4 separate regions of the Homo sapiens genome follow, and all the other regions are linked to region 1. The links come from fine-mapping of genetic effects on gene expression. A gene starts in region 1. Each other region holds a variant in brackets. All regions are shown on one strand. Distances are from middle to middle.

Region 1 (8,138 bases):
CCTTCAAATCTTCAAATCTCTCTCCCTTCTTCTCCAAACCAAAGCTCCCAGGCTGTCCACAAAAAAGACCCTCCCTCTCATTCAGAGCCAACTGATTTTTGTACACTCTTTCTTGCATTTTGAGACTCTCCAACTTTAGTACCAAGACCCATCTTTGTTCAGGAGCCAACTCCTTCATCTGAGGGCCTTGGAGCCCCAGACAAAGAACACGTAAGGAAAATGCCAGGCCCTCCATGCTCTGGGTTTGGAGTTAATTCTTTCCACTCCCACCCACTCCCCTTGAGGAACGGGTCTCTCCTCCGCTCCTCTGGCCCAGGGCTTCTCAAACTCCCCACCTCTGTTCCTCTAACTGCAGAGTCAGAGGAAGCATGACATTTTTTCTGCCCTTTTGTGCTTTACCTAAAAACTTTGCATTTTCTTCCAGAACCTACCCACATTTAATAATTTTTAGAAATAGTTTTAGTCACTTACCATAAGAGGAAAAAATGGACATTTTCCCACAAAACAATCAGGTAAAACTGGCATTGTGAAAATAGGAAGCATATGTCTCCAGTGCTCCTGGGCCCACCTCTGTGCCCCATGGTACTCGTAAATCTCCAAACATGCCACCACCGCCACCACCACCACCCCACAGCCTACTTCTCAGTTTTCTGAGCGCTTCCTGGCACACACACACCAAAGTGCTCCTGTGTACACCATTTTCAGAAACAAGGCAAAAGGCATTTCCATTCATTTCTGGGTTGGAGAGGCAAGACCTGGTTCTCACCAGGGCCAGTGGCCACGACCCTCCCACCCCCACCCCCACTTCACATCAAGACAGATTCTAGGGGCGTCCGAAGACCTGCAGCAGCTGCCATGCAGCTGGTGGCTTCCCAGGTCCTGGCAGGGCATCAGTTTCCGGCCTTACCTTGTCAGCCATGATCATAGATGCGCCCCCATGAATGCCCAAGATGGGGACGAAGGTGTGGGAGGAGATAAAATCCAGCATCTGGGCTACGGCCTCCTGGTCCGTGTCGTCCCCAAACACGAGGCCGTGGATGCGTGCCCCGGACATGAGGTCGCACACGTGCGTGATGAGGCTCTTGGGGTCGGTGCGGTTCATCAGCAGAGCTACCACGTTCACGTCCAGGGGCAGCCCCGCCGCCTGCTCGGGGCCCCACAGTGTTCGAAGTTCGCGCTCTGTCACGTCGTGGCTGTGACCCAGCATCACCGCAATATTTAGCGCGGGGGGACCCTTCTCCGCCGCCGCGCTCGGCGCCGGACCGCGCCAGACCAGAAGGGCCGGCAGCACCAGCAGGGTCCAATAGCCCACTCTGCCCATAGTCGCCACTGACGGTCCCTGCAAGGTGAAGAGTGAGAGGCAGGGCCGCGGTGAGCAAGGCGACCAGAAGAAAGGGATTACCAACTTGGCTTCCTGCTCTAGGAGCCAGGCATGGAACTCAGCAGCAGGATAGGCTGCTGGGATCACGGACTCCATTCCGAGTCCCCGACGCCATCCACATCCCTCGATCCATCTCTAACTCTATCCACAACTCCAATTCGAGCTAATTCTCCATCCCCCAGCCCCTTCTCGCATCCAGCTTCCTCATCCCCTGTCTCCAGGCACTTCCCCATCCCCATCTCTGTCCATATCCCCCACCGCATTCCCCAAGTTCGCCGCGGGCCACAGACCCTAAGCGCCGCGCGTGTTCTGTACCCCACCAAGCTCCTAGGTGCACAGAATAAACCCTCCATCCAACCCCTCCCACCTGGGATAGAGAGGACCAAGTTATCAACCCCGCCCCCTGCTGGCGCGGAGCGAACTACAGACCCCGCAGGGCGTGCGGAGGCGGCACCCAGACCCCGCGTCCCAGCTTGAGAGCTCAGCTAGTTGGCTGACCCCGCCCCCTACGAGCCCGTCGTGTGCACCACACACTTTGCTCTACGCCCAGCCCCAACTACAGACCCGGCTCCTCTCAGTCAGAGTACACCCCAAGTGCTTGGGAGTGAGGACGCTGCCTGGTGGGCCCAGGCTCCGCTGTGCCTGGGGAACTTGGGGCTCGCCCCACCTCGAGCCAAGGGGCCGTGGAGAGTCCTTCACCCCTACACGCGCGCGTGCACACACACGTGCACACACACACGCACACACACATGTTCACACACACACACCCTCTCTCACGCGCGCCGTGTGCAATGCTGAATTCTGGAGAGTAGGCGCGTCCCCCCGCGGGCCAGCGCGTAGGAGCTGGCAAAGAACGTGCGTAGGGGGAAAGGTAGGCTCCCAAGAAGCTCCCAGACGGACGTGGACTGTACAGCCCCTCCCTAGCCTTTCTACTGCGGGCGCTGTTGCCAAGTCCTAGGTGCACGTGGGCAGTGGGCCGCACACGCTCATAGGCACGCGCGCTTTTCTGCGCACTTCCTCAGACTGCTGTAGCGGTGCCCACGGCCAGCCGGAGTCCTCACATGTCCTCAGGTGGTGCACACGCATGAACTGCGGCAGGTGCACAGCCCTGCGTACCTGCAAATACCAGCACGGTCGTGCACGCGTGCCCTGACGCGCGCCTCTCGGGACGGACGCTGCTGGAGCCGGGGGAAGTTGAGGCGAACTCCAAGAGGCCTCGACGTTCCTGGGTAAGCGCCGCGGAGCGCGGAGCCGCAGCGCCCCCTGGTGCCCCTCCTGCACTTCGCCGCTGGGCTCCCTCCCGCTTTCCCTCTCCCTCTCTAGCCTGATCCCTCTCCCGCTCTCCCTCCGGTCGAGTCTCCCTCCTCCCCGGCCCAAGGAGCCCTGATCTCCCTCTGGGACGTACCTGTAGCCCGAGAAGGTCGAGGATGCAGTGGGGCGCGCTGCGCGCACGAGCATCTCGGCCGCCTCAGCAGCCACCGGGTTTAGCGGGTTCCCGCATGCTGCGGCCCCAGCGCGCTCCCCTGGCTGTCCCGCGCTGTCCGCATCGCCCCCACGGGGGGCGGCTATCCCAGCCGGAGGCTCTGCAGCAGGGCTCTAACGGGGCGGAGGAGAGAAGGAGAGGCAGGGTCAGCCCACCAACGAGGGGAGGGAGGGTTGAGGGGAAGGCTGCAGTCTGCAGTGCTCACAAGCCCCCCTATGCGCCCAGGGGGGCTAGACAAGAGGGGGGAAGCTGAAGCCCGATGCCCACGACGCCCCCAGTGCGGATCCTCAGCCCCTGTGGCTGATAGCGGGAGCTCCACTCCAGGGTGCACAGGAGAATGGGAGCCCCAGGTTGGCCACCCACGAGAAGCTAACTGGGCACCTCCACCCGCACCCCCTACCACCTCCCCAGCGCCGGCTGCTGGGAGTTGTGCGACCGGGAGCTGCTGAGCGAGGGAGGTAGGGAGAGAAAGAGGAGGTAACGAGGGTGGGGGGGCGCTGGCTGAGTTTGTGACGAGCCAGCAGTAGGAGAGGGGGAGGGAAGGACGCGGGCTCCCGCGGTCCCGGTTCCCCGAGGGAGGTGGATCTTTCCCACGCAGCGACCCTCTTGTGATCCTGCCGCTTCCTCCCTCTTCAGGCCTCCCACCTCCCCCCTTCCCAAGGGGGCCTCCCAGGCCCGGCGTCCCGCGCTAGCACTCACCGCAGCCTCTCTCCACATAGTTCTCAGCAGTGGCCGCTCCTGGTCATCTCCAGGGCTGATGGCTGCGGCCGCGATTCTCAGCGCTCACCCGGTCCCATGATCCGGCCAAGCCCTAGGAGCTCCCCTCCAAGATCCCTAGCTCCGCTTCCTGCCCCACTCCGGACGGCAACTGCCCGGTCCTCTGAGCGCGCCGGAGCACCCTCTCCGCAACCCAGCTCCGGGCTGGTGTGTTTGAGGGCGAGTGTGTGTGTGAGTGTGGGAGCGCGCTCGCGTGTGGCCGGGGATCCCCGCGGTCCCCGGCCGAGAGAGGCGCGGGCGGGGAAAGGCAGCTCCCTCCGGGCCCTTCGCTGCTGGGCCAGCTCCGCGCCGGGCGTTCGGCTCCCCACTTCCCAGCGGGAGTCCGGTGAGCGCCTGGACACCCTGGTTCACAGCACTGGCAAAGCCGGGTTCCCGGGGCGTCTTTCTGCTGCGGTCGCCTCCGAGGAAGAGGAGAAGGAAGGTAGCGGCGCCCTCCACACCAACTTAGGGACTTGTTCTCAGCCGGCGAGACGCAGTAGCCCCCGCTCAAGCCCAAGAGGCTTCGAGCTCCGGCGGGCGAAAGCGTCTCCTGCCCGCAGCCTCTCTCCTAGGTGGGTCGAGACAGACCCCGCAGTCCCTCGGCGGCGACGCGGAGCGCGGCCACCCGTTCCGAGAGCGCACGGCGGCAAATAAGGCCAGGATAGGTGGCTGGCTGGCGACGGGGGCGCCTGCGGCGGCGCGCGCTGCTGTCCGTGGTGTTGGAACCACGCTCTCCGCCCGCTCCCGGGCGTCTGGTGCGGCTGAAGAATCAATTATTCAGATCTCTGCTACCGCTTCCTCCTCCCCCAGTGCCTCGCGCTGGGTACAGTTATCCCCCTCCACGCACAGGCGCGCCGACACACACACACACACACACACACACACACACACACACACAGAGTCTGCTCCAATGCTTCTCCCTGTGCCTCGCCACCCCCGTACGGGAACCCACTCCTCTGATCTCAGGGAGCCAGAATCCTAAAAGCAAAGACATCTGCATTTCCCACATGCTTCCTTCTAAGTTCTACCAAACAGAAGCCTCCCTGAGGCTGCCACTTCTAAGCTACCAGAAGAGGTGAGCCAGAGAACATGGGACGGCCCGGGTGTGTGAGGGCTTGGTTGACTTGAATTCTAGCGACTGGGCATGAAATACATGGTCAAGGGAGGAGCTCTGCCCCTTTTATATTCACCTGTATCTCCAACGCCTGTCTGCCTTTCAGGCCTTGGAAGGAAAGGGGTCTTAAATTCTAAGAGGTTTTGCAATGACTGTTCCAACCCTGCCTCCTCCACTTAACCTAATGTCACCTGCTGCGGTCTAAATGTGTGTGTTCCCACCCCCAAATTCATAGGATAAAATCCTAACTCCCAAGGTGATGGTATTAGGAGGTGGGGACTTTAGGAGGTGACTTCATGGCTTCATGAGAGTAAAATGGGATTTGTGGTCTTATAAAAGAGATGCCAGAGAGTCAGCTAGGTCCTTCCACCAAGTGAGACTTAATCAAGAAGGCATCGGCCTATGAACAGGAACTAGGCCCTCCCCAAATACTGAGTCTGCTGCTGCTTCATCTTGGACCTCCCAGCCTCAAGAAGTGAGAGAAATAAACTTCTGCTGTTGATGATGTTTTGCTATGGCACCTGGATCAAACTAAAATATCACTTTTGGACATTATATTACTTCCCTTTATTGATCACTAATCTGGAAATGGGGGGCAGTAAAAACATCTACTTCTCAGGATTATTTTGAAAAGAAAAGGAAGTAGCCTTAATAAAGGGGTCAACAAGGTCTGGCACATAGTAGATGCTCAATCAACATCATGCACCTTGAAGTAGCCTGGAAGCAGGGGAACTTCTTCCAAGAATGTGGATGTGGCTGCTGAAATGGAGACAGGAGAGGGGCACAGTGTGTGGAGACAAATGGATTCATTATTGAGCTGGTTGTTCTATGCTGGGTTTCCTGGGTTTTTGTTTTTGTTTTTTTTTTAATCCAAAAGACAGAGAAAGCGTGAGGGAAATGCTGGAAAGTAAATTAAAATGGGGGATTGTATAATATAAGGCAGGGAACAGGAAAATGTTTCCTTTCTTGAGTCTATGGCTGGGCTGAACTGATTAGGCCACTCCTTGGCACCCATGCAAGACTCTGGCTTGGGGTCTAAAGGGGAAGTTAGGCCATTTTATTTAAATGAGTTATAAATTATAGACAATAAAATGCATATCTCTCAAGGGTTTCATTTGTGAAGGTTTTTTGGTGTTTTTTTATTTTTTTGTTTGTTTGTTTTGTTTTGTTTTGTTTTTTTGACAGGGTCTCACTCTTGCCCTGGCTGGAGTGCAGTGGTGTGGTCGTAGCTCACTATTAACTTGAACTCCTAGGCTCAAGTGATCCTTCTGCCTCAGCTTCCCAAGTAGTTAGGACTTGTGGTGGTTAGCACATGCCACCACATCTGGCAAATTTTTTATTTTTTGTAGCCATTGGGTGTTGCTATGTTGTCCATGCTGGTCTCAAACTCTTGTCTTTACGAAATCCTCTGGCCTTGGCCTCCCAAAGGCTGAAATTACAGGTGTGAGCCACTGCACCCAGCCAGTTTGTTACTTTTGAGATTGTGTGTATCCACATAGACCGTCACGTAAAATGAGGTACAGAGTATTTTCATCACCACCAGGAAGTTTTCTTGTGTCCCTTTGTTGTCAATCCCACTCCCCCCATTCAGTGTAAACTACAATTTTGATTTCTAATACCATGTATTAGTTTTGCCCTTTTCTGAACTTCATATAAGTGGAATTTTACACTATGTATTCTTTGGTGACTGGCTTTTTTCACTTACCCTGATGTCTAGAAGATTCCTCTGTGTTGTTGCATGTATCAACAGCTTTTTTATTTTTTATTGTTGAGCAGCTAGCTCTCTATTGCATGGATAAGCCACACTTTGTGTATCCAGTCTCCTGCAATGGATATGTGGGTTTTATCTATGGGACTTTTTAAAATACAGATGTGGCTGGGTGCAGTGGCTCACGCCTGTACTCCCAGAACTTTGGGAGGCTAAGGCAGGAGGATCACTTGAGCCCAGGAGTTTGAAACCAGCCTGGGCAACATGATGAGAGCCCAGGAATTTGAAACCAGCCGGGGCAACATGATGACAACCCAAGTGTTCACACTGCTGCACTCCAGCCTGAGTGACAGAGTGAGACTTTGTCCCAAAAAAAATAAATAAAGAAAATAAAACACAGATGCCTATGCCCACTCTAGATCTACTCCATCAGGATCTCCAGGTGTGGGGCCAAGCACGGACAGTTATTTTAGATCCATAGGGGATTCTGATGATGCCTCTGCACTTGCTATTCTCATAAATTGATGCTGACCCTGAAATTGGATTTGTCTTTCTTGAAAAATACTGGTATTCAGGGTTTTAAGTTATTCATGATCAGACTTATAGAAAGATAAATCAAACTGATACGGCCTCTTTTGAATAGAGAAAGAAGGCAGCCCTTCATTGGAAGGGACACTGTGCCTCTAAACATAGGCACAGGAGGCTGGAGTTGCACTGGGGTGGACATGTCACCAGGGTGGAGCACATCGTGTGTCAGGCACCTGGAACTTCACCATACATGCAGAGACTGTGACAGCGTGTATAAGATCATGACAGCCTTACTCCATCTATGCTGCCAAGCTTAATTCTCAATGCAGCTTAGGATGCTAAGCAGAATTTTGCTGCTCAAAGAGTTTCAGATGATAAGAAAAACTTCTTCATAGCAGCTATATCAACTGTGATGGTTAATACTGAGTATCAACTTGATTGGATTGAAGGATGCAAAGTATTGTTCCTGGGTGTGTCTGTGAGGGCGTTGCCAAAGGAGATTAACATTCGAGTCAGTGGACTGGCAGACCCACCCTCAATCTGGGTAGGCACCGTCTAATCAGCTGCCAGCACAGCCAGAATAAAAGCAGGCAGAATATGGAAAGACTAGACTGGTTCAGTTTTCTGGCCTCCATCTTTCCCCTGGGGCTGAATGCTTCCTGCCCTGGAACATCGGACTCCAAGTTCTTCAGCTTTGGGACTCGGACTGGCTTCCTTGCTTCTCAGCTTGAAGTCTATTGTGAAACCTCACCTTGTGATCATGTGAGTCAATATTCCTTAATAAACTCCCCTTTAGTCTGGGCACGGTGGCTCATGCCTGTAATCCCAGCACTTTGGGAGGCCGAGACGGGTGGATCACCTGAGGTCAGGAGTTCAAGACCAGCCTGACCAACATGGTGAAACCCCAGCTCTATTAAATACAAAAAATTAGCCAGGCATGGTGGTGTACACCTGTAATCCCAGCTACTTGGGAGGCTGTGGCAGGAAAATCACTTGAACCTGGGAGGCGGAGGTTGCAGTGAGCTGAGATTGTTCCACTGCACTCCAGCCTAGGCAACAAGAGCAAAACTCCGTCTCAAAAAAAATAAAAAATAAAATAAAATAAAATAAACTCCCCTTTATATATACATCTATCCTATTAGTTCTGTCCCTCTAGAGAACCCTGGCT
Region 2 (8,140 bases), 73 kb after region 1:
CATGCCAGGCCTACTATGTCCTTTCCAAAAACCACACGGGGCTGGCCTCTTTGCCCAGCTCACCATTTTCTCTCTCATTTCACTCCCTCCTTCTCTCTGCCACCTCCACAGAGAAGCATCCCAGCACCCAAGCAAACCCCTTCCGCTCTGTTTCACTCCCCCCAGGCGGAGCCCACGCGTGGGGTCTTGTGCGCGTGGTCCCGCGGCAGCCCACAGCCCTCTGCTCTCCGTTTCAGGCTGTGCACCCCGGCTGTCCGCACTCCCGGGCCTCAGTCCTCCCCAGCCGCCCCCTCCACCCACCTGCATGCCTGTGGCACGAGTGGGCACACGTGTTCCCGTCGCATGTGGAGCCCGCACCTGTGGGAGGAGAGCCAGCCCGGGCTGCCGCCGCGGCGGCTGAATCAGGACAGCAAATCTCGCCACCCCCTCACTCCTTAATCCGTTGCAATCTGGCTTCCTCCCTACGCTGCCCGAAGCTGCCCTAGCCGGGGTCGCTGATGATTCCCACGCACCAAGTCCAGCATCTTCTCTACGGTCTGGTCCGGGTGTGTCGCTTGGGAACGTCTGATTTTCATGACCACCACCCCACCAGCACTCCCTCCGCTAACTCCCTCCTCCTCGGACCCTGCCTGCTCCCCTCGGTGCCTTCCCCACTCCATTGTGGGCCCTTCCTGTCCAGATTCTCTCACTCCCACACCTTTCCGCCCAAAGAGCATTTATGGAGCTCTTGCCCTGTGCAGAACGTTGCTGGCCTTGAAGGGGAGCAGGCGGACCCTGAAGGAGGCGGTGAGCTCCTACAGTGGGGGCTCAGACTGCAGCTTCGGTGGCCTGCAATCCGTTCCCAGCTCCTGGCCAGGTGCAGTGGCTCAGCCTATAATCTCAGCACTTTAGGAAGTTGAGGCAGGATTGCTTGAGCCCAAGAGTTCGACACCAACCTTTAAATTGTTTGCCTTTAAATTTCATTAAATTAAATTTCTTTTAAATACAAAAAATCCTGGGCTTAAGCAATCCAGGAGGCCAATTGGCCCTGCTAATTTCATTTAAATTTTTCGTTGAGATGGGTCTTGCTGCGAGACCCTAACCCTAACCTAACCCTAACCCTAACTATCTCTGCGAGACCCCATCTCTACAAAACATTAAAATGAAATTAGCCGGGCATGGTGACAGCCGTGGTCCTAACTACTTGGGAGGCTGAGGCAGGAGGATCACTTGAGCCCAGGAGTTTGATACGAGCCTGGGAACATAGCGAGACCCCTGTGTCTATGAAAAAATGTAAATGAAATTAGCACGGCATGGTGGCCTCGCCTGTAGTCCTGGCTTCTCAGGAGGCTGAGGTGGAAGGATGGTTTGAGCCCAGGAATTCAAGGCTGCAGTGAGCTATGGTCCCACCACTGCACTTCAGCCTGGGTGACAGAGTGAGATCCTGTCTCTAAAAATGAATTTTTTTTTTTTTTAATCCTAGTTCTGCTGCCTTGTTAGCTGTGTGTCTTTGGGCAGATAGCTTACCCTCGCTGGGTCTCAGTTACCCCTTGGAAAACGAGGATCACCGTGGGATTTGCGTGAATGCCTGTGAAGTGTTTAGCACTGTGGTTTGCATGACTGCCTCACCCTACTCTATTTTCTGCACAGCAGCCAGAATGATCTTGAAACATAAATTAGATCTCGGCAGCTGCTCGCCTAAAACCTCTTCAAAGGTTTCTCGTTGCCCTTAGCATAAAATCCAGGCTCTGCACGATGTTTACAAGTCCCTGGCGATGCTCTGATCTCATGTTGGGTTACGCTTCCCTTGGTTCAGAAATCCCAGCCACCCTGGCTTTCTTTAATATTAAATTTCATTTTAAATAATTAAAATATAAAGAGTAAATTATTTAATGTACTAAATTAAATAATTTCATTTAAAATTTAATGTCTAATACCTAAATTAAATAATTTCCTTTAAAATGTAATGTCTAATACCTAAATAATTTCATTTAAAATTTAATATCGAATACATCAAGCTTGCTTCCACATCAGGACTAGTGCGGTGCCACCCCCTCCACTTGGAATGCAGAGCACTGCCTTCTGTCCATCAACCACGTGCCTCAGGTTTTCTCTCCTTCCCATCCTTCAGGTCTCAGCTTCAATGCCACCTCCTCAGGCCTTCCCTTACCACAAGGGAGGAGATACTGTCAATGTCCCACTCAGATCCTTGTCACCAGGCCAGTGGACCCACCCCCAACTGCTGTAGGTATCAGCTACTTAGGGCTCATACCTGAAACCTTCTCTAAAGGATTAACTACCTGGCTTCTCTGACTTTCCTTTCACTGAGAGCAGCCCCTCAAAAAATCACTGGCACAACAGTTGCCATCTCAGACTGCCTCTAGGGAACGGAACTTAAGATACATTTTTTTTCTTTATCTTGGTTTCTTTCAGAGCAATTATTATTATTATTATTATTATTATTGTTTTAAGACAGGGTCTTGCCAGGTGTGGTGGCTCACTCCTGTAATCCCAGCTCACTCCTGTAATCCCAGCACTTTGGGAGGTCAAAGTAGGAGGATCACTTGAAGTCAGGAGTTTGAGACCAGACTGGCCAACATGGTGAAACCCCATCTGTACTAAAAATACAAAAATTAGCCAGGCATGATGGCAGGTGCCTGTGATCCCAGCTACTCGGAAGGCTAGGGCAGGAGAATCTCTCAAACCCAGGAGGCAGAGGTTGCAGTGAGCCAAGATCGTGCCACTGCACTGCAGCCTAGGTGACAGACTGAGACTCTGTCTCAAAAAAGAAATAGGATCTCGCTATGTCACCCAGGCTCGAGTGCAGTGGCACAATCATGGCTCACTGCAGCCTCGAACCCCTGGGCTCAAGGGATTTTCCCACCTCAGGAGACTCATGACTACAGGTGCATGACACCACACCTGGCTAACATTTTATTTTATTTATTTATTTTTGACACAGAGTCTCGCTTACCCAGGCTGGAGTGCAGTGGCACAATCTCGGCTCACTGCAACCTCTGCCTCCTGGATTCAAGCAATCCTCCCACCTTAGCCTGCAGACACAGACCACCATGCCTGGCTTTTTTTTTTTTTTTTTTTTTGAGACGGAGTCTCGCTCTGTCACCCAGGCTAGAGTACAGCAATGCAATCTCAGCTCACTGCAACCTCCGCCTCCCGGGTTCAAGCAATTCTCCTGCCTCAGCCTCCCAAGTAGCTGGGACTACAGGCGCACGCCGCCAAGCCCGGCTAATTTTTTGTATTTTAGTAGAGGTGGGGTTTCACCATGTTGCCCAGGTTGGTCTTGAACTCCTGAGCTCAGGCAATCCGCCTGCCTCACCCTCCCAAAGTGCTAGGATTACAGGCATGAGCCACCACGCCCGGCCAATATTTTTTATTGTTAGCGAGGTCTATGTTGCCCAGGCTGGTCTCAAACTCCTGGCCTCAAGTAATCCTCCCACCTCCGCCTTCCAAAGTGCTGGGATTACAGGTGTGAGCCACTGCGCCCAGCCATTATTAATTTTGGAAAATATTTGGTACATTTCTTTCCTCTCTCTCCCTCACTACAGGGGAAGTTCCATGAGGGCAAGAATCACACCCGTTTAATCCATCACTTCACCCGCACACTTGGCGTGGGGGCCTGCACGTAGGAGATGCCGGAAGAGCTATTTCTTGAACTCAGGAAATGAGGCATCGTGTGTTTCCAGGGATTCCTCTCTAGTTTCCCCTCTTTTGACCTTCCTCTCAGTCCACTCTTAGATGATCCTCTTAGGATCTCAAACTCAGTGGGTCCCAGTGTTGATCCATCATCTACCCTCAGGAGAGGAGCTCTCCCCTGCCTTTTCTACCTCTGGCAGTAGCACCAGCCTTCTGGTGCCAAGGCTAGAACTCTGAGTGCCATGTCTGACTCATTCATCACAGCCATCCCCATAGCTAATCAGTGCCTGGACCTGTCTAAGACGTGTTGACATTGTCCCCTTCTCTCCTCTCCCCGAAGCTCCATGCTCACAGCCTTCAAGCCAGCCCAAGCCCCGGTTTCCTCATTC[C/T]CAAGTTGCTACAAGAACTCTTAGTAGGAACTCCCCACATCTAGCCCTCACCTCTCCTGCACCCATCTTGCACCAACCTGCTGGACTAACACTGCCAACACTCACCAGGAATCACCTCCCTCCCTCTGGTAAAAACCCTAAGAAGCCCACAGAGCCATGTCCCGTTGTCTTGCCTAACCTGGCATTCAAAGCCTCCAGTGATAAATCCTCGAGCCACCTCTTCCAACCTTGTCATTAATACTACAAAAGGTCAGGGAACACTTCTTTTAGGAGGTGACATTTCAGCCAGATCTGAACAAGGAAGAGCAACAATACAGAGCTGTTTTCAGATGTTAGGGTACTTCAGAACCCCCTGGGAATGTAAAAATATACGCAAATGCCTGTAGTGATGGAGATCGTTTGCTTGCTTGTTTCTTTCTTTGTTTTTAGCAATCCCTCCAGGACATTTTGTAGTCAGGCTTAGAAGCCACAGGTGGAGGGACAGACACACAGATGGACGAACAAAGAGACATAAATTAGTAAGTTATAACCTAACCATAAATCCCAGGCCTGAAAGCACAAAAGACCCTGCCATTCACTTTTTCTGGGAGAATCAGAAAGATGTCCAGGAGGAGAGGGTCTTTAAGCATCGTCTGAAGGGGTGAGCAGGGTTTGCAAAGCAGAAGAAAAATGGTCCTCATTAACATAGTGGAGAGTTTAAAAAAAAAAAGTGTACCCAGTGCAAAAGCTGGGAAAAAAAAAAAAGAATGGAGAAACTCACAGGCAGAGAGGGCAGCTCCTGTGAGAGGTCCCGGGCTGCGGCCAGTAGGTGACCACCAACGGGAGGCAGTGACTATATCAGGATGCCGAGGGGCCCCAGGGAGATGCGGCTGAGGTTGGAGTTGGGGCAGGTGAAGGGGAAGGACTTTGTGGGGTATCTGAGGAAGATGGAGTTTCTCCTGAGGCCACCAGGAGGCGCCAGACGTCAAGCGGGGCGGGGGGCGGGGACGGGCTCGGTAACTTTCCTCTGCTGAAAACAGCCCTGAGCAGGGTTAGCAAGGATTAGCCGTGGCAATAAAGGGCTTATAAGGAAATTAAAAGGTCTAATGAGGGCCATAAGGATGATTTATACCCTTTCTGTAGCATGCCTCTTCCTTGTACTAGAATTCATGTATGCCTTTGTCCTGTCTCCCTAATGAATTGTGGGGTACTCATAGAACTAAAACCCGTGTAATGATTAGCTGAAGCAGGGTTTCTCAACCTTGGAACTGTTGACATTTGGGGCTGGTAATTCTGTGTTGTGGGAGGTTGTTCTGTGCATGTTAGGGTGTTTAGCAGCGTCCTTGGTTTCTACTCACAAGATGCCAATGCACCTCCATCTCAACTAGTGACAAGCAAAAATGTCTCCTGACATTGCCAGCTGACCCGTGGGAGCAAAATCACCCTCAGTGGCAAACCATTGGGTTAAAGGGGTTCTGCAGGCTCTAGCAGGATCCAAATCTGGGCTCTGCCACTTCCCAAGTAGGTGATCTTGGGCAGACTACGTCACTCCTCTATGCCTCCATTTTCTCATGTATCAAGAAGGGATTTTTAAAAAGTATTGACATCAGCATCAGTGTAAGAATGAAACACAGTGATCCAGCCAGGCACAGTGATGCACGCCTGTAATCCCAGCCCTTTGGGAGGCTGAGGCAGGAGGACTGTGTGAGCCCAGGAGTTTTAGACCAGCCTGAGCTACATAGCAAGACCCTATCTCTACAGAAAACAACAACAAAAAAAATTAGCCAAGTGTGGTGGTGCACCTGTAATCCCAGCTACACAGGAGACTGAGGCGGGAGGATCGCCTGAGCCAGGAGCTCAAGGTTACAGTGAGCTATGATCATTCACTGCACTCTAGCCCGGGCAACAGAGGAAGCCCTTGTCTCTAAAAATAGAAATAATAAATTAATAAATAATAAAAATAAATACAAGGCTGGGCCCGGTGGCTCATGCCTGTAATCCCAGCACTTTGAGAGGCTGAGGCGGGAGGATCACCTGAGGTCAGGAGTTTGAGACCAGCCTGGCCAACGTGTTGAAACCCTGTCTCTACTAAAAATTTAAAAATTAGCTGGGCATGGTGGCGGGTCCCTGTAATCCTAGCTACTCAGGAGGCTGAGGCACAAGAATTGCTTGAACCCAGGAGATGGATGTTGCAGTGAGCCGAAATCGTGCTACTACAGTCCAGCCTGGGTGACAGAGCAAGATTCCATCTCAAAATATAAAAATAAATAATAAATACAATGACAAATGCGAAGGCCACAAGGTAAACACTCAATGAACACCAGGCCTCTGAGGACACAAGGGATAGTAATGGTTATGGTAACCTCAGTGTTAGCAACTACAGCCTAACTCAAGAATTCCCCGAAGATGTGTTCCAAGGAATAATGAACTCAAAAAGTAGTTTTATTTAAAAAGGTTTTCAGGCCAGAAAATGCAGGACACCCAATTCCTTTTTGAGCAAATTAGGTATACTCAGTTAATTAAGACTCCAAGAAGGCCTGCAGTCATCATTACTCGATTTGAAGCTCTGGGAAATGAGGAGTGAAGTCTAACTCACTACAGTATCCCCCTTCCTAGCATAATGCTGAGGAACACTCAATAAGAACGTGATAAATTGTGGGCAGAGGATTACCCAGGTGCCGAGGCAAGAGACTGAAGGCACAAACTGTTTCAGTATAATGAAGAAAATAGTTACAATTAGAATAGTTATAATAGAAATTAGATATAGAGATGATCATGGACATTATCAATCATTAGTATAACCATTATTAATCATTAGCCTTTAATATTACTGTTTGTTTAATTACTGATATAACAAAGGAATAACCAGCGGGGATAGGGTCAGGTGCTGAAGAGACATTGTGAGAAGTGACCAAGAAGGCAAGAGGTGAGCCCTCTGTCACGCCTGCATAAGGGCCGCTTGAGGGCTCCTTGGTCAAGCGGTAATGCCAGTGCCTGGGAAAGCACCCGTGACTTAGCAGACCATGAAAGGGAGTCTCGCTTTACTTGGAGGACTCAGGGAACACTCTGCTCCACCACCTTCTTGTGGGAGGTTGGATATTATCCAGGCCTGCCCACAGTCATCTGGAGGCCTAAACCCCTCCCTGTGGTGCTGTGCTTCAGTGGTCATGCTCCCTGTCCACTTTCATGTTCCTCCTGTACTCCTGGTTCCTCTTTGAAGTTCTTAGAAGATAGCAGTAGAAGAAACAGTGAAAGTCTTAAAGTCTTTGATCTTTCTGATAAGTGCATAGAAGAAAATGCAGATGTATGCTGCCTTCTCTCTCTGCTTCAGCTACCTAAAAGGGAAGGGCCCCCTGTCCCATGATCATGTGACTTGCTTGACCTTATCAATCACTCGGACAACTCACCCTCCTTACCCTGCCCCTTGTCTTATATAGAATAAATATCAGCCCGCCCAGCCATTTGGAGCCACTACTGGTCTCTGCGTCTTGGTGGTAGTGGTCCCCCAGGCCCAGCTGTTTTTCTCTTTACTTCTTTGTCTGGTGTCTTTATTTCTTATCATCTCTCGTCTCCACACACGGGGAGAACACCCAATAAGCCCCGTAGGACTGGACCCTACAATAAATGAATAAATTAACTGAATATTTACATGAGTAAACTTGTTAATTACAGAAGTCAGCTTAGCTGAGTTTCACCCAGTGTTTTCCAAGCTCTATGGACCACTGCACTACACAGATCCCTAGGACTAGAGCCCTACAGATGTGCTTTAGAAAAAAAGTAAAGAGACAAAAATAAAAAATAAAAAAATTTTAAAAATATACAAATATACTTTGGAAAATGTAGCCCTTTCCCAGAATGGTAAAGCAAAAGTGAGTGACTCAGAAGGCAAGGACGATGACAGGACACATTTCTGGGATCTGAGTTTCACGGGGGCTTCATTAATTTAAAACATTTTTTTTTTAAATCAGAGTCTTGCTCTGTTGCCCAGGGTGGAGTGCAGTGGCTCGATCTTGGCCCACTGCAACCCCTGCCTCCCAGGTTCAAGCAATTCTCTTGCCTCAGCCTTCCCGGTAGCTGGGATTACAGGCATATGCCAACACGCCTGGCTAATTTTTGTATTTTTAGTAGAGACAAGGTTT
Region 3 (8,000 bases), 210 kb before region 1:
ACCACTAAACAACTTATCCCTGTAACCAAAAGCACCTGTACCCCAAAAACTATTGAAATAGAAATTAAAAAAATTTTAAAACAGTATGAATTATTAATGCATTAGGAGGCAAAGACAGTGAAATGTCAGAAAGAAAGACACTTATGACTGCGGTTGGAATTCATACAGTGTTTCATTATTTCCAAAGGTAGTCCCCATCTATTATCTCACGTAAACCTCCAGACAACCCAGTGGGTAGGCGTTATTATTGCAACGTGATTCTTACTCCCATTTTGCAGGAAAAAAGGAGGAGGCTGAAAGAGGTTGAAAATAGATACAAGTTAATCTCCCCGACACTCCCCCTATCCATTCAATGACAATCTCTCTAGGCTTTGTATTGCTTCCTTCCTTCTTCTCTCCCCTGCATCTATCATTTCTTTGCCTCTATTGACTTGTATGTATGTATGTATGTATGTATGTATGTATGTATGTATGTATACATGTACGTATGTATGTATTTAGAGATGGAGTTTCGCTCTTATTACCCAGGCTGGAGTGCAATGGTACGATCTTGGCTCACTGCAACTTCCGCCTCCCGGGTTCAAGCAATTCTCCTGCCTCAGCCTCCCAAGTAGCTGGAATTACAGGCATGCGCCACCACACCTGGCTAATTTTGTATTTTTAGTAGATTTGGGGTTTCACCATGTTGGCCAGGATGGTCTCGAACTCCTGACCTCAGGTGATCCACCCACCTCGGCCTCCCAAAGTGCTGGAATTACAGGCATGAGCCACCATACCTGGTCGTATTTATTTTTTTGACAGAGTTTTGCTCTTGTTACCCAGGCGGGAGTGCGGTGGCGTGATCTCGGCTCACTGCAACCCCTGACTCCCGGGTTCAAGAGAGTCTCCTGCTTCAGTCTCCCAAGTAGCTGGGATTATAGGTGGGCACCACCACACCCAGCTAATTTTGTAATTTTAGTAGAGATGGGGTTTCTCCATGTTGGTCAGGCTGGTCTCAAACTCCCAACCTCAGGTGATCCGCCCGCCTCAGCCTTCCAAAGTGCTGGTAATTACAGGTGTGAGCCACTGCGCCCTGCCCTCAAACCACATATATTAAAGTAAAAAGAAAAAGTTGAAATTAATATTAATAATGTATCTTATTCAACTCACTATATTATCATTTTAATGTGCAATCAATATAAAAATTATTATTAATGAGATATTTCACATTCTTTTTTTTCACAGCAAGTCTGAAATTCAGAGTGAATTTAACACATATAGCACATTTCAGGTCACACTAGCCACACTTCAAATGCTCAGTAGACACAGGGAGTCAATGGCCATCCTGTTGCACAAAACAGGTTTCTGTGGTCAAGGTGATCTCCTCGTCCCATGGTCCTTTTTTGAACTTGGTGTTACCGAATCTTTCCTCTACTGACATCACCTCCCTTTTCTCCTTGACACACTCTCCTCCATTGCTGCCTGAAACATCTTTTTCTCCTTGTCCTTCTCTTATATCCCCCTATCATTCCTTCTTAGATGCACACTTTCTTCACTCGCCACTTAATGAGTTAGTGTTCCCCAAGGCTCTGTGTTGCATCCATTGTTCCTCACTGGGTACATCATTTACTTGGACATTTTATCCATCCTTCATGGTTTTAAATATATGCCAATGCCTTCCAAATCCAGATCATTCCACTGGGCTTTGATATTTAAAGAACTGGATGTTCATGGTGCCCCATAAGCCAGTTAAGCTCAGCAGACTCTAAAACTGACCTTGTCATCCACCACCCAAACTTACTCAGTGATACCTCAATCCACAGCCATCCAGATACCCTAGACCAGTGGTTCTCAACATGCAATGACTGTGCTCCACCAGGGGATATTTCGCTATGCCTGGAGATGCATTTAGCTGTCACAGCTAGGAGGCAGGGTATGACTGGCACCCAGTGGGTAAAGACCAGGGTTGCTGCTAAACATCCTACAATGCACAGGAAAGCTCCCTATTCACAAATAATTATCTAGCCCAAAATGTCAAGAATTCCACTGCTGAACAACTCTGCCTTAAAGCCTTAGCTGCATCAGCAGCTCACAGGAGACTCACAGGCACGCCTACTCCCGCACGCCATCTTAGACCTACTGAATTAGAATTCTCTGAAGTGGGGCCTGGGGTTGGTGTTTTAACACACTCTCCGTGTGAATCTTATACACACTACAGTTCAAGAATCACACTCTAGGTAGAGCCAACCTTGACGTCAAAGAAATCTCGAGTTCTTGTTCTGCACCAAGCATTGGGATCCCTAATACAGAAAAAAGCAGCTCAAATTCAATGTTTGAGTAAGCACTTGACTTCAGCCTTCAGGATACAACCTGCTAGGCCTCCAGGTGAATAATTTAACTTGTTTTCTCTTTATTAGCACTATTCCAGAAAAAAATTGACCTGTAAGGTTCATAGTCCAAAGCAACAAGTCTTTAATGTACAATCCTTTTCTTAGCCCTGGAGCTTGGAGATTATTTCTTCAAGTTTAAAGCTAGGAAATAGAGCAGTGTTTTGGTGCATTGCCCACTAGAGAGACTGGAGTAGAGACCAATGCAGGAAAATCCTGAAACCTTTTCATCTTATTAAGCTCAGTTTATATTTTAAAACATATGAAAGAAAGTGCTTTTGAGATATGGAGATAAAGATACGATAGATCTGCTAAGGAAAAGAGGCCTTGAGGATTGTTTAGATTCACTTGGCTGCTGGAGGGCCCTAGAAAGAAGTAAATTAGAGGGGAAATAAATCTGGAATCGAGTTCTTGCTCTGCCTTAACTGACTGTGAATTTAAAAAAAATCATTTTGGTTCAAGAAATATGTATTAAGGATCTCTGATGAGCTAGACACAAAGTTAGGTACTGAAGATAAAATAAATAAAGCAGGCAGAGTCCCCTACCTTAAGAAAATTACAGGCTGGTAAACTCTCAACAGGAGAAATATTGGATATATCAAATATAGTTCCTTCCCCTGAGAAACGCAGACTGGTTGGTGAGACAGACAAATAGATTTTATGATTTCAGAACAATGTAGTAAATGTTAAAGTATTACAGAATGCTATGGAATAATGGAGAGATGA[G/A]AGGCTTATTCACCCTGGGAAATAAAGGAAGCCTTTCTGGAGAAGACAAAGAGTTGTGTAGATAGTCATTTGAGAGGCAAGACTGGGGGGAAGGGGAGAGGCTAGAAGGCTATTTCAGGAATTCTATAAAGAGATGATCAAGGCATGAACAAAGGCTATGGGTGACAAATAAGAGCAGACAGTATGAGGTGGGGTGAATTAAGGATGCCCACACTGTTTTCTGTTATTCTTCCCATTGACAGGTGGATTGCTTTATTCTCCTCTTGAATCTGACCAGCACAGTGACTATGTGACCAATAGAAAAGCCTAATTTTCAGTAAAACAGAAGCTTCCACTTCTTCCCTGATATAACAATTTCCCTTGGGTATGTCAACTCAAAACTCAACCACCATGCTTTGTGAAATCCAAGCCACATAAAAAGGTTACATTAGGCAGTGAGCTACGCCCCCAAGCCAATAGCCAGCTCCATCCACTTAGCCATGTCATGAGCCATCTCATACATTTCAGCCCAACTGTGCTCTCAGGGAACTGTAGCCTCAGCTGTTATTACATGCAGCAGAAAAACCACCTAGTAGAGCCCAGTCAACCCACAGAACTGTGACTGACAATAAAATGATTCTTGTTTCTAGCTCCTGTATCTTGTAGCAAGAATATATAAGAATGTAAAACTGCCAATGTCGGGTAAGAAAATGAGATGGCTGAAGATGATGACATGTCAGTCTAACTTTACCATAAAAATTATCTGATCTAGTTTATCTGAAAAATAGTTCCAGCAGTGTAGAAGTTTAAGAAAACAGCAGAAGATAGCCAGAGTTCTGCTTCTGGTATGGTAGGAAATCTCTTAACAGATTCCCTCCCACACCCAAACAGGTAAAAAATTAAAGCTAGAAGGAAAAAAAAAATATACCTGAAGGCTCTGTAGAGTAAAAATAGCCAGTAGATTTCACAGGGACATTGAAACATGGAAGAAGGGCTCATCATAGAGTTCTACATTTTTGCCACCTAGGTCTGACAGCATGCTGCTGTCCCAAAATGGCACCGGGTGGCTCAACATCTAGTGGAAGAGCCAACCTCTTTCTGGCCTGAGGAGGTGGAAGTTAGAGACCTGGAAGTCCACGGCCAGCAGAATATAAAAACCCCAGAAAGAGGAGACTTAGAGAAGGGAATTCTTGGCATGTATATGTAAACTCTGCCCAAGCCTCTGGCCAGTCCTTGAACAAAGGGTGAGTAGACAAGGCTCAAAGTAGTTTGCATTTAAACCCAACAGGACTGAGAACTAAGCCTCCACCTGAGAGACAGATATGGAAATGTAAGTATAACCAGGTTAGTTACCTGCTAAGACACAAATATGAATACTCTTTAAGGAAATATAACCCACAATATAGCATTCACAAAGTGCTAGTACAATTCAAAATTACTTTACATATAAGAAGTAGGGAAATCTGACCCATTCTCAAGCAAAAAAGACTTACTTTACATATAAGAAATAGGGAAATCTGACCCATTCTCAAGGAAAGAAGACAATCAACAGAGGCCAATCCCAATATGATCCAGGTGTTAAAGCAGCTATTCTAACAATACACTTAATGAGGTAAAGGAAAATATGCTCATCACAAAGAAAAAGGTAGGAAGCCTCAGAAGAGGAAAATAAAAAAAAGAACATTTAGAAATGAAAAACAAAATATCTGAAATAAAGAATTTACTGGATAGAACTAACATGAGAATGAAGATGACATAGGCAGGAGTCAGAGAGCTTGAAGATAGATCAATAGAAATGACTTAAGCAGAGGGGCTTTTATAAATTGACAGAGTGAGATCTAACATACATGTGATTAAAGTGTAACCACCCAAGATCACCTTGCCACTGTCTAGACAGAGCCGATTTATCAAGACAGGGGAATTGCAATAGAGAAAGAGTAATTCACACACAGCCAGCTGTGCAGGAGACCAGAGTTTTATTATGACTCAAAATCAGTTTCCCCAAGAATACAGGGATCAGAGTTTTTAAGGATAATTTGGTGGGTAGAGGGCCAGTGATTCAGGAGTTCTGATTGGCTGTCTGGAGATGAAATCACAGGGCGTTAAAATTGTCCTCCTGCTGTGAGTCCGTTCCTGGGTGGGGGCCACAAGGCCAGATGAGCCAGTTTATCAATCTGGGTGGTGCTAACTGATCCATCAGATGAAGGGTCTGCAAAATATCTCAAGTACCGATCTTAGGTTTTACAATAGTGATGTTATCCCCAGGAGCAATTTGGGGAGGTTTAGAGTCTTGCAGCCTTCAACTGCATGACTCCTAAACCATAATTTCTCATCCTCTGGCTTTAGGCAATCCCCAGGCAGGAAGGGTGTTTGTTTTGGGAAAGGGCTAATATCTCTTTGTTTCAAAGTTAAACTATAAACTAAGTTTCTCTGAAGGTTATTTTGGCCTACACCTCCGCCCAGGAAAAACAAGGACAACTTGGAGGTTAGAAGCAAGATGAAGTCACTTAAGTCAGATCTCTTTCACTGCCATGATTTCTCAGTTATAATTTTTGCAAAGGTGGTTTCAAAAGTTCCTACAAGAAAGAGAATGGAGAAGGGGAAAAAATATTGAAGAATAATGGCCAAAAAGAAATTTGGTGAAAGACATAAACTTACAAATTCAAGAAACTCAAAGAACCCCAAATAGGACAAATGTGGAGAAAACCATGCTAGGCACATCACAGTCAAACTGATGAAAATCAAAAGAAAGAAAATCTCAAAATTAGCAAGAGAAAAATAGCACATTATATATAGAGAACAATGATTCAAATTTTTCACAGACTTAAGATTAGAAACTACAGAGTCCAGAAGACAGTGGAATAATGTCTTTATAAGTGCTGGGGGGAAAAAAAACAAATTCTATAATTAGTGAAAATGCCCTTCAAGAATGAAAAAGAATTAAAGACTTTTCAGATAAAATAAAACTAAGAGAATTCATTTCCAGCAGACCAGCCCTTCAAGAAATGCTAAAGGAAGTTATTCAAGCTGATACAAGAGAAAATAATACCAGAAGAAAACTCTAATTCCTTCAGGAATTAATGAAGAGCATTAGAAGCATAAATATCTGGATAAGCATAAAAGACTCTTCTTTTAATTAAAAAAATACATATGCATGTGACTATTTAAAGCACAAATCCTTACATTGCCTCTTAGGGTATTAATGTACAGATGCAATGCATATAACACTATAGCATACAGGATGGTGAGGGTGGAAGAAGAGAGACAGGCCCTCTCACATTGTTTTATACGGTTTTATACTCAGAAAAAGAAAGAGAAGCGAAACTAAAGGCAGTTAGCCTGGTGCCTAGGAACCAGACCCAAAACCAAGGAACCAGACCCGAAATCAGGCCTGGGCCTGCCTGACCTAAGCCTGGTAGTTAAAGATCGACCCCTGACCTAACCGGTTATGTTATCTATAGATTCCAGACATTGTATGGAAAAGCACTGTGAAAATCCCTGTCCTGTTCTGTTTCGTTCTGATTACCGGTGCATGCAGCCCCCAGTCACATACTCCCTGCTTGCTCAATCGATCACGACCCTCTCACGTGGACCCCCTTAGAGTTGTGAGCCCTTAAAAGGGACAGGAATTGCTCAGTCGGGGAGCTCAACTCTTGAGACAGGAGTCTTGCCGATGCTCGCGGCCGAATAAACCTCTTCCTTCTTTAACTCCGTGTCTGAGGAGTTTTGTCTGCGGCTCGTCCTGCTACAAGGGGAATGAGTAGGCCCTATACTGAAAAGTTTCTACATTGTATGTGAAGCAATGCAATACCAACCCTAAGTAGCCTGTGAAAAGCTAAAGATGTTTCATGTGATCCCTAGAGCAATCACTTTAAAAATGCAAATAGAGATAATTTCACTTCTTCCTTTCCAATTTGGAAGCCTTTTATTTCTTTTTCTGGCCTAATTGCTCTGGCTAGGACTTCCAGTACTATGCTGAATAGAAGTGGTGAGATTGAACATCTTTGTCTTGTTCCTGATCATAGAGGAAAAGCTCTCAATTTTCACCACTGAGTATGGTGTTTGTTGTGGGCTTGTTGTATTTGACCTTTATTGGATATACTTCTATCATGAAAACACTCAGAAAACTGGTTATAGAAGGAAATAGTTTAAATTTTATAGGAATTAAAGTATTAAAATTTTTAAATAATTTTCTGCATCTATTAAGATAATTCTGCATCTATTGAGATGAGAGGTATAGATTAAAAGCCAATAAATAAGTTAAAACAAAGTGTGTAAATACTCTAAAAATCCATAAAAAGGCAGATATAATGGGCAAAATGGATCCCCCAAAGATGTCCACACCTTTAACCCTGGAACCTCTGAATGTGTTATGTTACATGAAAAAAGTGATTATGGACCTAAAAACGGAGAGATTATCCTGGTTTATTCCATGGATCCTACTCACAAGTCCCCTGAAAAACAGAGAACTTTCTCCAGCTGGAGTCAGAGAAGTAGCAGAGAAGAAGTCAGAGAGACTCAAAGTGTCAGAAGATCTTCATTCACCATTGCTGGAGGAGCTACATGGAAAGCATGAGAAAGAAGTCTCTAGGAGCAAAGACCAGCCTGCCATCCACAGACTGCAAATAAATGGGAACCTCAGTTCCACAACTCTTCGGTTTGTGAATCATTCGTCACAGCAGCAACAGAAAACTAACAGAGCAGGAAAGGGAGAAGAGAGACATGAAAAACAGAGGGGAAATACAGAAACAACAATAAACATGCCAAACCCAAACACATCGATAACTGCATTAAATGACTGTGGACTAAAAGTTGAAGACTCTCAGAATGGATCAAACAAAAACAAGACCAACTATTCTCTACCTACAAGAGATGTACTTTCAATGTAAAGACGCAGACAGATTCAAAGTAAATTAATGGAAAAAGATA
Region 4 (8,140 bases), 860 kb before region 1:
CTGTAAGTCTCTCTTCCTCCCTTTCTGCCGTTATCTCTTTACATCTCATGGGTCAGAATGTGGTCATGTGGTCATGCCTTGCAAGGGAGTCTGGGAAATGTAGTCTTTTAGCTGAGTGATAAATGTTTCTCATACTAGCAAATAAGAGGACATCAAGTAGGCACTAGTGTTTATGTCACTGTCCCCTTGAACTCACCCACCACATAAATAGCTAGGGCAGTGATGAATGTTGGGTAGAGAACTTAATTTGAGAAGAAAACACTGAACTTCAGTGCTGATATGCCTTCCCTAGTCTAGTTTTCTGTGGAAACTGGAAATCAGCCTGGCTTGAGGAAAGCCCCCTGGAGTGAGTGTCTTGACCCAGATTCCCATGTTTGTTTTGCCCTCCATGACCTTAGGAGCAGGGGACTGAAAGGTGACTCTTCAGTTTCCTCCATCCCTCTGTGGTTCTCATGGAAGCACCCTGCCTATTCTGATCCCAAGCCATGCATGTTTCTGTTGTTACTAAGCTTCTTACCACTGTCTTTGGCTCCTGCTTATAAATGTTTAAAAATATTCGCTTGACGCACAGTGGGATTATAGACTCTCTCATTTCCGAAATGAAAAGCAGCTCATGCATTATTCAAGAAAAATATTGTATTGTTGAACAAAGGATGGGTACACTCATCCCTTATTATGCATTCCGGTCTTTGCTACCTTATTAGTAGATGTGTTCTGTGAGAATTTTACTGATGGGGTTTGTAAACAAAGGCAGAGAACAAACACTAATGTGTTGAGATGGCATGATTAAAAGATTATCATAAAATCATCAACTTGCATGCCTGGGAGGTCTACAGTCTACTCAACACTTGGGCTCCTTCTACCTATTCCTACCACATGGAAGCTCAACCTTGGCTTGAACACTTCCAGTTGTGGGAAACTCACTACTCCCAATTTCACCTTTGTGCAGTTTGATTATAAGGAAGTTTGTCTCAAATTGGGCTGAAATCTCTTTCCTTGTGGTCTTTACCCATTGGATTTAGTTTTCACATGGAACAATTCTGTTCCCTTTCTCCCTGATGACCCTTTAGTTTTATACAGATGGCGATTGTTGAAATCCACTTGTGTCATTTCTTTGAAAGGTCAAAAATCTTCTAACTTTTCAGCCATTCTCCATGACGAAAAAGGAGAGTTCATTGGATCTAACAAGGATTTATCAAAGAGCTTTCTCTTTATGATCCAGACATGGTGATAAGCATGTTTATGGCTTATAACACTTTGCAGTTAAGCAAAGATTTGCAGGGTATTCAACTATCAGGATTCAAAATTCCACACCTTTCCAGTCCTGTCTCCCACCACTTTCCCTCTCACCCTTCTTCTTCAGAGTTCCTGAATTTTCTTTTTTTTTTTTTCTTTTTTCTTTTTGCTCTATTGCCCAGGCTGGAGTGCAGTGGCACCATCTTGGCTTACTGCAACCTCCAACTCCCAGGTTCAAGAGATTCTTCTGCTTCTCAAGTAGCTGGGACCACAGGCATGCACCACTACACCTGGCTAATTTTTGTATTTTAGTAGAGACGGGGTTTCACCATGTTGGCCAGGCTGATATTGAACTCCTGACCTCAGGAGATCCACCCGAGAGTTCCCGAATTTTCTATTCTTCAAACACACCAAGATCCTTCCTGCCTCAAGGCCTTTGTACATGCCATCCTTGCTGCCTGGGATGCCTTCCCAAATCTTCATAACTGCTGCTGCTTCTCACCATGCAGCTGTCATGCACAAGACATCTTTTTAGAGAAGCCTACATAGATTTCTATCTAAACTAGGCCTTCAATCCTACTTCTCCTCCATTACCCTCTGGCTTAGTCCATTAGGGCTGTTACAGCAAAGTACCATAGACCAGGTGGTTTATAAACAACAGAAATTTATTTCTCACAGTTCTGGAGGCTGGGAAGTCCAAGATCAAGGAACCAACAGATATGTTGTCTGGTGAGGGTCCACGTCCTGGTTCATAGGGAGTGCCTTTTTGCTCTGCCCTCACACCACAGAAGCGAGGAGGGAGATCTCTATGGTCTCTTTTACATGTGCACGAATTGCACTCATGAGGGCTTCACCCTTATGATCTAATCACCTCCCAAGGGTCTCACCTCCTAATATTATCACATCAGGGATTAAGTTTTCAACATACGAATATTTTTTGGCGTGGGGGACCATAACACTCTCTATTCCATTACCCTGCTTAATTTTTCTGTAGCACTTTCCATGAAATAAGTCAATTCAACAAATATTTACTGAGCATCTACTATGTGCCAGCACAGTAATTGTTCTAGGCACTTTGGCTACAGCAGTGAACAAAACAATGATTCTTGCCTTCATGGAGCTTACATTCTCACAGGAGAGACAGAAAATATATGATACACATAAGAATAAATTATCTGATACATTAAAAGGAATGAGTTATGGAGAGGAAAATAGGGAAGGTAAGGTTAGAGAGTTGTGAGCACAGGTGGGGCAAGGTTGTGCATTAAATAGGGAGGCTGGATATGTCTCTCTAAGAGATGAGATTTGAGCAAGGACAATTTCATTACATCAAATTATCTTTTAGATTTGTTTATATATTGATTTTTTGCACCCACCCCCCACTCCCCACTGCAGCTGACCTCAGTGTAAGATCTATAAGGCCAGGACCTTGTCTGTCTTGTTTTCCATCAGTATCCAGTGTCTGGCACAGTGTAGGCTCTCAATGGGATGTTGGTTGAATGACTGTCAAATGCCTAAATGATAAGATAGGAGGCAGTAGCAGAGGTTTTGGTCCTAGGTGTACTGTAAAATCCATGCACCTGCATGCTTCACTTCCCCCTGTGAATGCTCCTTTTAGGTCTTGCCTCCCTCTTTTCTCTCCCATAGAAGAGTGAAATCACACCTATTTCCAGCAACACATCCTATGGTTATGGCTAGGTAGAACAAGTGCTATCATCCCCATTCTGCAGATGAAGAAACCGAGGCTCAGAGAAGTTCAAGGCTGTGCAGCTCTAGTGACAGAGGGTGGGTTTGAACCAGAGTCATTGCCACTAACAGGAAGGCCAGCAGTTACCTGTAAGCCCCATCTCTCAGTGAGTTTTCTGCACCATCCTTGGACTAGAGCTTCCCTGAGCAGCACAGAGGATGGGCCTTGCCCGGGAGAGCTGACTCTTCCTCTGCTCCCTCCACTCATGTTCTGAGATGGAATTTCCCCCACGGTGAACTTGATGCTTCAAAGCTCTCTCTGAACCAATTCAGTTAAGGCAAATCTGGCTGTGTCTGATGGGTTCTCTTAAACTGACCAAATAAATAGGCAGGGAGCTTTGAATAATTGGCTTTTGCTTCTCAACGCCAATTGTTATAACAATGAATCCTTCATCCTGCCTTTTTCAAGACAACTAAATTGTCTTTCCGGTCTCAGGAGAAAGATTAACTCTTTGACTTCCATATGTTTTCAGGGCAACCACTAATTCCTTACCTTGCTACAGAATTGTAAGATTCAAAAGTGCTTTCATACAAAATATATTATTTCAGTCCAGGCATTATGAACTGTGCTACAATATATACAGGACACTTGTAGAAACTGTGTATCCATGGATGCATTCATTTTTTTTTTTTTTTTTGAGGTGGAGTCTTGCTCTGTTGCCCAGGCTGGAGTGCAGTGGCGCAATCTCAGCTCACTGCAATCACTGCCGTCCAGGTTCAAGCGATTCTCCCACCTCAGCCTCCCAAGTAGCTGGGATTACAGGTGCCTGCCACCATGCCCAGCTAAGTTTTGTAGTTTTAGTAGAGACAGGGTTTCGCCATGTTGGCCAGGCTGGTCTCAAACTCCTGACCTCAGGTGATCCGCCTGCCTCGGCCTTCCAAAGTGTTGGGGTTACAGGTGTGAGCCACTGTGCCAGGCCAGATGTATTAATTTTTAATAACAGCAAACTTAACTGCAATGGTCATAAAAACAAAGGGAACTGCCTGACTCATAGAACTGAAATGTTTAGAGGAAGAACGAGCTTGAGGTGCAGAGTGATCATTCCTATGGCTTAATTTCCCTTGTAATTTTTTTTCAGTGACTCCTCTTTATTTTGCAAGTCAGATTCATTCTCAAACTAACTCCTGTCATGAATGCAGTATGGTTACAACAAACTGCTTCTTGCCTTCTCACTCATGTCCAGGGCCAGAATGAGCACTTTTGCTTTCACATTCAAGCAAGGGTCCTGAGATTCACCTTGGTGGTACCTATGTCGATCACATGCCCAAGTCTGAACTGGAGACTGGGCTGGGGGACTAAAAGATGCTGATTGCTTTAAGCCAGTCAGAGCTCACTCTTGCTGCAGGCCAGGGCATGTATTTCCCTTAAAGCATATTGGTTGTATTAGGGGGAGAAAGAGGAAGGGATGGATGTGGGAAGGCAGCCAGCACATATTTGCTACAGACTCACTTTAGAATAAGAACAACTGAGGATTGAGTAACTTATTAAAGGGCATTTGGCTATTCAGTAGTGGATC[A/C]GGGGCCAGAACCCAGGCGGTCATCTTTGTATTCAGAGTTCTTTCTAAATATCAGATTCTCTCCGCCCTTTGCCTGTGTTGAATTTGTGATCCTCTTTTCATCGGAGGCTGGGCAGCTATCAGCAGAGTAACGTATTAGGGGTGAGAGAAGGTCTCCTTCCTGTCTTGCTGATGCCAGAAATTCTACATAATTACCTTCTTTTGGGTTACAGTATTGCTCATTCATTCAAAAACAAATATTCATTGAGCTGGGAATACTGGCTGGCCTGGGCCATCTGAAAACCTATCTTTTAATCAGGAGTCTTTTCATTGCAAGTAATAGAAACCTGCTCAAGTTACTTTGGGCAAGTAAGAGAGGGGAATTTATTCTAAGGATACAGGATACTTTATCCCATCTACTAATCTCTCACATATTATAGAATAATTTTATATGCCAAATGTTTAATAACAATGCACACATTGTTTATTGGACATATTGATTGACAGTTGAGGTCTCTGTAGCACGTTTGATAGTTCACTGCATCTTCCTTAGTGAATACCCTGTAACTGTTATTATATCTGGGTTTAGGGAACTTCAGATAAAATCTAGCCCCATTTGCGTGCACTTCCAGATAGCCGATTTAGGCTTAATTACATGGACATGTTCAAGAAAAGTGAAGGGACTGAACAGTTTCTCAGGAGGAAAAGGAGGGATGCATCAGAAAGCTGGATAGTGAACTCTGCTCATTATGAGGCTTAGATATCCAGTGGCTGCAACCTCTGCAGCATGCATGTGTTTTACTGAGCTTGCTTTCTGATTCCAGTCCCACAGGTGCAAGCAAAGACCACTCCAGGCTTATAGGAGGTGTGTTGGTTTTATAAAGTTTTCTCAACTCACTCCCATGTACGAGCTGGGACCATGGAAAAATTTCTTGGCCATTCAAGTCTTCAGACACTGTCAAAAGAGGATGAGGTGATGTCTCCCTCTTTATGTAGACCCTGAATGACTTTCTTTTGGGGATGGTAAGAGAGTCACCTTCCCATACATCTGGATCTGATCATCTTGAATCATCCTTTCCAGTTCATGGACTTCATAATGGTCTCCTCATTTTGAAAAGTGGGGGGACCAACACCTAGGCAACCCAATGAGTAGGCAGGTATCTTTCCCCAAGAATGAATGAATTCTTCCTTTTTTTTCCCCCAACAAATTCTGTAGAGCTCTTGTGCTCAAAACTGCGCAGCATCAGAATCAGTTGGGAACTTGCTAGAAATGAAGACTCTTAAGTCCCACCCTAGACCCCAAGTCAGACACTGTATTTTAGTAAGAATTCCCTGGGCCATTCCCATGCACATTAAAGGATGAGAAGCACTGCTGTAGAAACTGCTTCTCCATCCTCCACATTGCATTTATTTGATTGCTTCTCTGTGTCTGGGAGAAGGGCCAAGGTCATGTCTACTCACCTGTACATCTCCATCTCCTATGTAGTGCCAGGTGTCCAGGTGGCACTCAGTAGCCATTTGATGACTAGATGGATGGAGAAAATAAGTTTCCCTGCTTGTCAGGGAGGCTACAGTCCTAGTGGGAGAACGCTGGGGTCAGGAGGGAAGAGAAAGGTCACTAAGCAGTTCTGTTGCATCCAACATTTCTTCAGCATCTAATTTGTGTGAAGTGGTTTACCTACATTATACAACTTACTTCCTTCAAAACTTTCCCAGGTAGGGATCAGCCCTATCAGGTTACAGATGAACAAGTGGTGCAACTGCAATTTGCAATTTTTCTATTTTGAGACAGAGTCTTACTCTGTTGCCAGGCTGGAGTGCAGTGTTGCAATCTCAGCTCACTGCAACCTCTGCCTCCTGGGTTCAAGCAATTCTCATGCCTCAGCCTCCCGAGTAGCTGGGATTACAGGTATGTACTACCACACTTGGCTAATTTTTTTGTATTTTTGGCCATGTATTTTTTGTATTTTTCACCATGTTAGCCAGGCTGTTCTCGAACTCCTGGCCTCAAGTGATCTGCCCGCCTTGGCCTCCCAAGGTGCTGGGATTACACATGGGAGCCACCATGCCTGGCTGCAATTTAAATTGCAATTGGCTGCAATTTGAACCCAGCACAGTTGTTTTGCTTTCTTTCTACACAGGCACTCCGTGTTTGTGTGAGCGTGGGCTTGGCACCTAACCTTCCTGGACTCTACTGTCTGAATCTGCAGCAGAGGCTTTGGTGCCATGCTCATATCCCCCCTCCTCTCAAACTCACTGTTCCTGCCAACCGCTTCTGTCTGCAAGGAGCCTCTGACTATGCCTGAGGGCTTCTGCTGGCTCTAGGAACATGTCTGTCCCACGCACAAGCAAGCTAGAAGTGCCAGGGAGTTAACACCCCCAGGAGCAGTCTTCAACCAACAGCAAATGGGAGTTGATGAGTAAACACCCTGTGGGTGGGATAACTGGGTGCATTGGGTGGGATAACTGGGCGCATTGGGTGGGATAACTGGATGCATGTCCTACACCACCTCCAAGATTCTCTCTTGGGATGAAGCCCCTGGGCGCCCACAGTGGTGACCTGCTCATTGGTTTCCTTCCCTTCCCTGTCTCACTTTCTTACTCTCCTTCTGGTGCTTCCTGGTATCTTCTGGTAAATACATTGTTTACATTCAAGGCTTTATTTTAGGGTCTTCTAGGAAACCAAATCAAAGACAGCATCTGTTAAATAAAAACAACGGCAGCCAATGAGTTCTGATTGCCTGACACTGTGATGAGCCTCTGTGTGCATTACCTTCTTTAATCTTCATAGCAGCCCTCTGAGGTAGGTGCTGGTAAGGTCTCCAGATGAGGAAAATGAGGACCAGATGGGTGAAGGAATCTGACAAAGTTTGTACATGGTAGAGTCAAGGTTTGGATCTATTTCTGTTTGATGTCAAACCCCATGGTCTTGAAATACTTGCCCTCCATGATCATTTGGATTATTGGATTATTTGGATCATTATTTATAAAGAAAAAGAGGTTTAATGGACTCACAGTTCCACATGGCTAGGGAGACCTCACATCATGGTGGAAGGTGAAAGGCACATCTTACATGGCAGCAGCCAAGAGAGAATGAGAGAGCCAAGTAAAGGGGGAAACCCCTTATCAAAACATAAGATCTCATGACACTTATTCACTACCATGAGAACAGTATGGGGGAAACTACCCCCATGATCCAGTTATCTTCTACTGGGTTCCTCCCTACAACACATGGGAGTTATGGGAGCTACAGTTCAAGATAAGATTTGGGTGGGGACACAGCCAAGCCATATCATTGCCTGAAATCCTGAATGTGAAGGTTTTTTGAAAAAATGAGAAGTTTAATTGTCATCATTATGTTTTTAGAATGGGCTAATTTTGTCAAAGTCTTTCTTGCCAAAGGGGTTAGGAGAAGTCAACCATGGCTGGGGTTGCAAGGGCTCTGATAGGATACTTGGAGCATCCTCATGTTAGGATTTGATGGGACTAGAAGGAAATGGAAAAATGCTAAGTCTAGGGACTGGAGATACCTTGACAGTGGAATAGGATGAGAATGAATAGATGCAAGGACAAGCTGGGAAAATGCAGAAATGATCTGGGTCCCCCTAGAGACAGTCCATGTATGTATGGTGCTTGGGGTCGGGGCATAACAAAGGACTGTA

Direction of the effects. Positions count from the first base shown, and alleles are read on the strand shown. Sizes are in standard deviations (SD) of each study's normalised expression. Not every link is listed here.
In carriers of allele C in region 4, the expression in neural progenitor cells of the gene that starts at base 3,338 in region 1 tends to be higher than with A alone (large effect, 1.0 SD a copy in Aygun 2021).

Evidence for each region. PIP is the estimated chance that this variant, and not a neighbour inherited with it, causes the effect.
Region 2: its variant is fine-mapped to the expression of GRIN2A in unexposed skin (GTEx, PIP 0.98).
Region 3: its variant is fine-mapped to the expression of GRIN2A in substantia nigra (GTEx, PIP above 0.99). The same link has a PIP of 0.9 or more in amygdala.
Region 4: its variant is fine-mapped to the expression of GRIN2A in neural progenitor cells (Aygun 2021, PIP 0.95).

The regions. Positions count from the first base shown.
Region 1 is chr16:10,179,091-10,187,228 of GRCh38, forward strand. It overlaps GRIN2A (glutamate ionotropic receptor NMDA type subunit 2A), which reads right to left and starts at 3,338. Exons shown (of 13, transcript NM_001134407.3): 1 at 2,787-3,338; 2 at 908-1,339. The coding sequence starts at 1,321. RefSeq lists silencers at 2,426-2,535, 2,546-2,605.
Region 2 is chr16:10,252,014-10,260,153 of GRCh38, forward strand. It overlaps LOC105371078 (a long non-coding RNA gene), which reads right to left and starts at 630. Exons shown (of 3, transcript XR_001752077.1): 1 at 301-630. RefSeq lists an enhancer at 7,256-7,305. The variant C/T (reference allele first, on the strand shown) is at 4,023.
Region 3 is chr16:9,967,831-9,975,830 of GRCh38, forward strand. The region is part of intron 2 of GRIN2A (glutamate ionotropic receptor NMDA type subunit 2A); the gene reads right to left. Among named protein-coding and RNA genes, the nearest start is that of GRIN2A, 210 kb to the right of the region's middle. The variant G/A (reference allele first, on the strand shown) is at 3,093.
Region 4 is chr16:9,318,932-9,327,071 of GRCh38, forward strand. No RefSeq gene overlaps it. Among named protein-coding and RNA genes, the nearest start is that of LINC02177, 33 kb to the right of the region's middle. The variant A/C (reference allele first, on the strand shown) is at 4,500.